Linked DNA regions of Homo sapiens: region 2 is linked to region 1. Evidence: fine-mapped expression QTL. A gene starts in region 1. The other region holds a variant in brackets. All regions are shown on one strand. Distances are from middle to middle.

Region 1 (4,398 bases):
TTCTTTTCCTTTAATAACATTCATTCTGTTGAAACAACATCTGTATCACTCAGGAACAATTTTAACTGTGGTTTGCATGGCTGTTCTGTAGTAACATTCTTAACTGTTACACTAGTCCAGACAAACTTATGTAGCTCCCCAAGATTCATAATCAAGAAATTGCTGTTATCTGGAGGACATTCCAACATTACAGTAAGCAGTCAATGAGCAGTTCCACTAGGACAGGGGAGTCTTACACTCTAAGAACTTTACACTAGACTGCTAATCAGAGAAACCTGAAAGGTCTGTCAGTCCACAAAAGGTTAAAACAAATGGTTTTTTGTTAACGATAAACAGCTGATAAAAATGTTAAGCTTGGTGCTAATAGAAGCGTTTTCCAAAATGAAAAATTTAAATGATTACACAGTAGAAAGTACTAGTTACAAATTTTTCCTTCTATGCCAGTGTACGGTTTTCACTTACCCCTCCCAGATCCTTAATGTCCTTTTGAAGTTTTTCAGATATGGTGACAGAAGGTAAGTCAAGGTAAAATACTTTTCCCCAAAGTGGCTTACATTTGGATTTTTCTGGCCTGTTATCAGTTTTCAGAGATTTCAGAGATGGTCTGTTTTTTTCATTTTTGACTTGGATTCCACCTATTAAAGATGTTTAGAATCAGATGTTTTACACAGACACTTTTACTATTTTTAAAATATTTCATTATACAATATTACAGAATAAAAATCCTTACAACCCTACCAGTTTAAGTTATTAGCATTGAAATGTATTTCTTTGTAGTACTACTTAGGATAGAGGCAAAATGCCCTATATACTTTCACAGACCGCATATTGTAAAATAATAGTTGACTCAGCAAGAAATATTCGTGTGTTTATTCCTGAGGCACGGAACTATATAAAACTCTTTTGAAAGATTTTCTTTTTTTAGGATGTAAACTCCATGGGGATATTTAATACTCAACTATTTATTGAGCATCTGCCATTCTGCTGAACATTCAAAACTGGTGTTTAAACTTCATTTAGCGATGAAAGAATCCTCTGTTACGCAGAATAACCTAGTCCTCAAGGGTTTCAGACTGCTCAAGTTTTAGTTTCATATAAAGTTTGTCTGCATATTAACAACTAAACGGTCCATTTCACATACAATTTGTCTACGTATTAAGAACTTAACGGTCCATTACGAAGAACTAAACCTTTCATTATTTTCATTAGAAACAGATCTGAGATCCAAGCAACTGCTTTAAAAATTAATTTTTCAAACGCAATCTGTTCTTAAATTGGTAGTTACTACACACACACAAACACCTGTACAAAAAACTTAGGTGCTGGAATGTTTCACCAAATAAAGTGACTGAAAATGGAAATTTGCTTTTGTTTCCCTGTTTGTAATGTTGAAACCAGCAATGGGGTGTTTGAAATACAATGCTTTCCCCCAACTTATGAGGAAAGGAAAATAAACTTTCAAGGGTAAGACCAAAAATCCACCCACAATCACTCAATCTAATCCTGAAGCGAAAAGCCACGAGCGCGTCTGACTTTAAATTGAGGATGCAGTCCGTCGCCTCCAAGGGCCCGGGCGGAGGCTTAGCATATGCGAGAGCCCGGGAGCAGACAGCGCCGCAGTCCCGGCGAGGTCCCGGATCTGCACATTGTTTGCTAGTTTTCAACCGAAGGCACGACCGGGAATCAATCTGGGACCGCCGCTGTAAACGGCAGAGCGCTCGAGGGGCCGGGTCAGGATCCGTTCCTTCTTAGGCAAAACACTGAACGGGGGCTCCTTCCTTCAGACCCCAGAGGCCGGTCAGAAGAAAAGAAGCTGAGGACCCGGCGGGAGAAGTCTGAAGAATCAATGGTGGAACCACGAGGGGAGGAAAGGATTAAAGGGACTGCAGGCGGAGGAGGGGCTTCTTACCCTGGAAATGTCCTTTACTGTGGATCCTCATGGCTCCGGAGTTCATGGCAGTCGCCCGGCACCTACATGCTGGGTCCGGAGAAAGTGTCGCACCGGGCAGCCGCGAAAGCACGGCTTCCCCCGGCCTGTTGACAGGACGGCCGCCTCTCTCCTTCCGCCAGCTACGGCCTCTACGCAGTAGAGGTACCGCGTCTGCAGGTCGGGTTTCCGGGGCCGGATCCGGCTCCAAGGCGCGGAGGAGGAAGGCGCAAAGCACAAACGAGTGGGCTGCGGCGGTTGAAGATTTGAAAACGCGTCACGCGGCCGCGGCGCCGATACGCGCGCCCCGCCCCGTCTCACGCCACGCGCCGTGCCCCGCCTCGCGCTCGCCCCTCGTGCCTGCCTTCTCGCGCTGCGCGCCCCGCCCCCTCACGCCGCCGTCCTTCTCGCGCCTCGCTCTGGCCCTGCAGGTTGTGTTTCCGCCTCTACCCCGCCTCCATTCCGTTGCTCTCTCAGTCTCAGACCCGGGCTCTCGGTCCGCCGCTTCAGGTCTTGGCGCAGCCTCAGAGAGTTGGCGCGGCTCTGTGTTGACCAAACCTAGTGGATGCAGTTAGCGCCGGAGCCCGGCCCCGCCCGTCACCAGGGTTATTCCCGCCTTCTAGGTTTGCCAGGACTGCCGGCCCTGCAGCTGCCTTCTGCCCCAGGTATGCTAATTTTCCACTGGTCGGACGTCTGGGAAGCTGAAGGCGAGGGGCTTTGGCTGAGTCCGGACTCAGCTCTGGCCGGGCCCGGGGCCGGGGCCGGAACCGGAGCCGGACAGCGGCGGCAGCCGCAGCCCCTGCTCAGCGCGCCCTGGGTCGCACAGCAAGCGGGGTTTTCCCGCGGTCACTGCCGACCCCACCGGCTGAGGACAGCTGCAGAGGGACGTGCGGGAGTGAGGGCGGCCCCGGGGGGCGTCTGAGGGAGGGTCTGGCCAGGCGGCCCCGGCCTTGACGGCAGCGCCACCGCAGAACGCCTCCAGGTCACTTTGTGTCCTTGGGTAGTTGGCTATTTGCGCTGTCCTGTTGACTTTTATTGTATTCAGACCTGTTTTCTTTTAGTTGAGTGTAAGTTTATTTCAACAATGAAGGAGTGGAAAGTAACATCTCATTTTTTTTTCCTGTAAAACAGAGATTAAAGATCAAATTAAAATGCTTGTGAATATATTTTAATTTTATAAGTTGGAACATGCCTCTCCAAAAAAAAAAAAAAATCTGTTTCTTCAGGAGGAAGAGGATATTTTGAACTATTTTGCATTCCTCTACTCCAGGCCATAATAGGCACTCCTGTAGTGGTTGATTTTTTTACCTGGTAGCTCAAGGAAGTCAGAGTATCAGCGTTACGGTTTTGCAGGTAGGTACCTTAAAGAATAGACAAGGGTGGGTTGTGACAAGATTAGCTGGAGAACGCAGAGAACAGGTTTGCTAAGGGAAATGAGAGTTTGGTTTTAGACAGGTTTATGTTGAAGGGCCTGGGGCGACAGTCATGGAACTATGCTTATTAGACAGTTAAAGATGTTTATGACTCGAGAGAAATGTCTAGCAGAAGTGGACATGGGAAGAGGAAATAGAGATTGATTTGATATCTCTCCAATAAAATATTTCTGCATCAAGGTCTATTGATGTCAATCATGGGGCAATTCATTAGAGGTTAACAGATCTTGAGTGGTGGAAGGAAGTGTAGTTTGAACAAACATATTCAATATTGTAATTTCTATGGGAAAAAACTTATTTTCAAAATATAAGCTACAGAGAGCACAAAATGTTTATATTTACAGAAAGATTTAAAAAGTTGGGAAGCACTAATATAGAATGTAGTTAAAGCTTTGGGAGGAAATGAAATTGCCAAGGAGAGCATGTGAAATAAGAGAATTGATTATAAGCGTCGTTGATGAAATAGTGAAAGAGATGGAGAAAATGCCACAGAATTGGGAAGAGACTGCAAACATTGGAATCATATGGGCTTCACTAACTACTTGGCCTCTGGGTAATTTTGAGCCCCAATTTTAATCTATTAAAAGGGGGTAGTACTTCTCAGGGATGTTGTGAAGATTAAATGAACATTTTTGAATGCTTAGTACAGTGCCTGGCACAGAGTAGAGCTCCTTAAGAGCTCCATAATTACTATCATTCTAGTGAACACTGCACCAGTTCCTTCATCCCCAGGACAGATAAGGTTAAGACTTGAAAAATAAGTATTTGATTTTGGCGTTTCAGGTATCCTTGGTTTCCTTAAGGGTAATTTGAGTAGGTGGCAGAGATAAGTACAGTACTAGATAAAAATTATAATCTTGAAGTTCAGACAGGTTGAGTGTACTCTTTCAAAAAAATTTGTTATTGTAGGAAAGTATAATGAAGGGAAGACTGGATCTTTGGAAGGTTTAGAGGATGTGGGAAAGATTTTTAAGCATGCTTCTATTGAGGAACTTTTTTTTAAAAAAGGAAGTCCCATTTTATGGTCTTGTGAAAGAT
Region 2 (4,398 bases), 32 kb before region 1:
TGTAAAAACGAAGTTTAGCTATGCTGCCCAGGCTGACCTTGAACTCCTGATCACAAGTGATCCTCCTATCTCAGCTTCCCAAAGTACTGGGATTACAGGTATGAGCCAGTGCCCAGCTAAGCCCAGGAGTCTGAGGCCACAGTGAGCTGACTGCACCATGGTAACCAGGCCTGGACAAGAGAGACCTAGTATCAAAACAACAACAACAAAAACAATAAAAAAAAAAAAAAAGAAAAAAAAAGAAAAACCACACACACAACAAACAAAAACAAAAAGGCAAAGAACCTTCTGGGTAAACACTACCTTGGCTGTGCCTTGGTAAAAAATAGGAAAAACTACCCCTACCTCTAGGTAGATGCACCTCATTGCCAGGACACACTACTTGCTGCAAATAACCTGCCTTCATCTCACTGGCTGGGTGCCCATCTGCATAGCTGCACAGCACAATCCAAACTGTATGTGGTGGCCCAAGTAAACTGAAATTATTCCAAGTAAACTGAAATTTAAGCACTTGAAAAAAGCTGAATACTCATTATGAAGACCATGTGGTGTTCCAAAAGTCCAATATCCAGTGTCAAATAGTTTAACAACTTTTACTGAAGGGTTCAGACTTTTTCTCCTTAGTAAGTATAACTTAATGTAAAATGATGCCCAGAGTACCACTGTAAATTGAAGACACTTTTTTTTTTTTTTTTTTTGAGACGGAGTCTCGCTCTGTCACCAGGCTGGAGTGCAATGGCACAATCTCGGCTCGCTGCAATTTCTGCCTCCGGGGTTCAAGCGATTCTCCTGCCTCAGCCTCCCAAGTAGCTGGGATTACAGGAGCGCACCACCATGCCCAGCGAATTTTTTGTAGTTTAGTAGAGACAGGGTTTCATCATGTTGGCCAGGATGGTCTCGATCTCCTGACCTCGTGATCCGCCCGCCTTGGCCTCTCAAAGTGCTGGGATTACAGGCGTGAGCCACCGCGCCCAGCCAGACACTGTTACTCTTAAAGTCAAAGGATCATACAGTGACTTTACATACCTTTCAGTTATTTGGAAAATTTGGGGAACACTGATAACTAAAGGGAAATAAACCTGCAAATAATTTTCCAAGTTCCATTTAGATTTTTCAAAGGTTGTCTACGAAACCTTACGTATGTTTACACATACATACATGTATTTGTGATAGAAAATGGAACAATAATTTACAATGGAAACAGGGTTTGCGTGTATGCACTGTAAAGACTCTTTTATTGAGCCTACTTCAGGTACTGGTATGAAAAACAAAGGTGTTAAAAAGCCAGTGTTCATTGATGTTATCCAAATGATCAAAATAATGTATGCAGGAAAAGCATATGAATTAGTCCTGTACTGAGAATCATATATTTCAAAAAAATTAAGATTAGTAACCTAATTTTTAGTGACAATAGATTCATGTACTATGCAATAGAACCAATTGAATGTCACTGGTGGTAGTCTTACTCCTACAAGAACATACTCAAAGGCAAATGCCTTATATCCACAGATTCAAATTGAAATTTCTTATATTTGAATTTTCTCTTCTCCAAATGCTTGTATCAGTAAGTGCCAGATCAAGGCAATCCTTGTATATATCCCAAAACTGTATCTATAATTCAATGCCATCCTTTTCTCCTTCATCTCCTACCAAATTAGGGGGTAGAGTCAACTTTTTTTTTTTTGAGATGGAGTCTCACTCTGTCACCCAGTCTGGAATACAGTGGCACAATCTTGGCTCACTGCAACCTGCACTTCCCAGGTTCAAGCAATTCTCAGCCTCTGGAGGGAGTAGCTGGGACTACAGGCGCATGCCGCCATGCCCAGCTAATTTTTTGTATTTTTAGTAGACAAGGTTTCACCATGTTGGCCAGGATGGTCTTGATCTTCTGACCTCGTGATCAGCCTGCCTCGGCCTCCCAAAGTGCTGGGATCCTGTGGCATGAGCCACAGGAGAGTCAACTTTTGAATATTATTAAAGTTATTTACAAGGTAAGTAATTAAAAATAGCAGATAAATTATATTCCACTTGGTAGCCTGGTTAAGTCCTTCCTTCATGGCTTCCAGTTACCCCTATACATAATCTAATTACTCAGCACCAAAATACTAGCATGGTCCACCAGTGACCCTCAAGTGTCAATATTTCTGATGATTTCCAGAATTCAAGCATAGAAATGTATTTTTCCTTTCTGTATGAAATTTAGGTTTTTCAAGGCAAGGTCATGTTATCCTGATAATCTTTTAAAATTTACAATACAACTAGAATATCCAAATGTATAATGCTAAGTTTGATATTCCCCAAATTGCACTTCACTGGTGGTTTTCAGTGACAAAGCAAATTATTATTCATTGTAATTCTCAGGAAACAATTACGAACATATATATAATGTAAAACAAGACCAGTCACAAGTTTATTCTGTAATTTTTCTTTAACAGGTATTCAATTCTGTAGAAAATTGCAAATATTTATTTTTAATATTTACATTTGGGTCTGTAAACAAAGCTGGTAAAAAAATCCTAAGAATTTCCATACATATTTATA[A/G]AAATTTCAAGAATATGATCCTTATCACTTCTGAAAAGTATGCATTTTTTAAATTCTAAAAGCCAGTAAATGTAGAAGTTGAAGGGGACGAGAAAAACGCTGTTAACAGATTATCTGAATTTTCCTCTTCCCAAATATCTAAAACATTGCATATACCACTCTTTTCTGTGTAGCTTGTGAAACCCAAAAATTCTGATTTCTCTTCACTAGTCTGAAACAAGTCTAGTAAAGACTGTACCGGTGAACTACAAATTCTGTTTTCTTCTTGTGTAATAAATTCAGTTCTTTTATCAAATTCAGCATTTGGTTCCAGATTTTCTTTTCTATTTCGTCCTAATATTATTTTCACTTTTCGATGTATTTTACCAGAAGGTAAACTATCCATATTCTTGAAGTCACATTCATTGGGTTCCTCAGGAGGAGTATGGAATGGAGCCTTTGCCTGAACAGTTAGGTGCTCTTGTGAACTGTTTATTGTTATCAGACCAGAATCATGAGTAAATATTGAATGAAGGTCCTTTTCCTTGAGATCCTTTGCTGGAAAAAGCACAGTATCTGACTTCTGTTTTGGTTGAGATCCACTATTATCTGTACTGAAATCAGAAACATGTACAGATGCCTGTATGTTACATTTATAGTGATCTACCCTTAGTTCTTCTAAGTCATTTTCACTTAATGTGTGTTCGGAAATGTCAAGAATGCATTCCTGTTTGTTTTTATGTAGAGGTAGCTGTGTAAAATTCTGTCTTATGTCATCTTCAGCTGTACTTAACATGGAACATTTATTACTCATTTTCTCATTAAGCCCTCTCAATTCATTTGAAGGGTGGGGGATGGGCTCTGAAATAAACAGGAGCTTTTTTTCAGTTTCCTGGGTCTCTTTATACAGGAAATTCTGCTCCTTCACTGTTGTATCATCTTCCTGGCAATCTTTCTGAGAAATATGTTGCAATTCCACTTTTTCCTTTTGTTCAGTCTTTTTCAGGACACTTGCAGAAACAGGAGAAAGGGATCCAACACTGTATTTTATTCTTTGTAGGAAAAATAGAAGAAAAATATTAAAATAATTGCTATCAAAACAAATTCCTGAGTAGTTAGAAATTAAATTAGTAAAAACATTATATAATCTTTAAGAAACCTATTTAACTTAGGAAATTTTACAAAAATACAAACATCTTAACATTTTGCCAAATTTACTTGAGCTGTTTTTAAAGTAATACAACTTTTCAGATATAGCTGAAAACCCTAGTGTACCTCTCTTCTCCTCTACATTCCCTGCCTCCCTCCCAGATAACCAATATCCTGAATTTTGACATTTAAAATTACTTTAATCATGTAAATGAAAGAAATTGATAGTAAAGGGATTTGAGCCTGCCCCTAATTTTGCTTTCATTATTCTGAACAATTTCTTAACTTCTGTGCTTTGATTTACATTAATGCACATTTTACTCTTCATTTTACTTAGCAATGTGGAGAATAAGTATTTACTGAGAAACCTATGGCAAAAACATATATTTTAAATTTACATTTAAGAATATTTAATATCAAAGTGAGCTAGAAACTTAGTATCTTTATACTTTCAAAGGTGACAAAGTTGTAACTTTTAAGCTTCAAACATATTTGACCTAAAATTATTTTCTTCATGGAGCATCTTGATATCCCTGAAATTCCAGTTTGTATTAGACAAACCTAAATAATATACAATTAGAGAAAAAGTTAATAGCTCACCAATTACATTTTGTGTTCCGCATGTCACAGATTAACTGTGAGAAATAATACAATTTTTCCTGCCCCTTCAACCAGAATGTTCTTTTTTATCTTGTTCATACATTTACTTACAAACAATTCTCTTTGAAC

Which allele goes with the higher level. Alleles are on the strand shown, and positions count from the first base shown. SD is a standard deviation of normalised expression in the study named.
In carriers of allele A in region 2, the expression in testis of the gene that starts at base 2,195 in region 1 tends to be lower than with G alone (small effect, 0.25 SD a copy in GTEx).

Evidence for each region. PIP is the estimated chance that this variant, and not a neighbour inherited with it, causes the effect. A credible set is the group of variants that fine-mapping cannot tell apart.
Region 2: its variant is the best candidate, but not a certain one, in a credible set for the expression of DBF4 in testis (GTEx, PIP 0.72).

Annotation. Positions count from the first base shown.
Region 1 is chr7:87,874,290-87,878,687 of GRCh38, reverse strand. DBF4 (DBF4-CDC7 kinase regulatory subunit) reads right to left here and starts at 2,195. Exons shown (of 12, transcript NM_006716.4): 1 at 1,910-2,195; 2 at 463-635. The coding sequence starts at 1,955. SLC25A40 (solute carrier family 25 member 40) reads left to right here and starts at 2,328. Exons shown (of 12, transcript NM_018843.4): 1 at 2,328-2,592. RefSeq lists enhancers at 1,916-2,035, 2,223-2,732 and silencers at 2,096-2,355, 2,486-2,935.
Region 2 is chr7:87,906,362-87,910,759 of GRCh38, reverse strand. DBF4 (DBF4-CDC7 kinase regulatory subunit) reads right to left here. Exons shown (of 12, transcript NM_006716.4): 12 at 1,207-3,572. The coding sequence ends at 2,597. Among named protein-coding and RNA genes, the nearest start is that of ADAM22, 26 kb to the left of the region's middle. The variant A/G (reference allele first, on the strand shown) is at 2,542.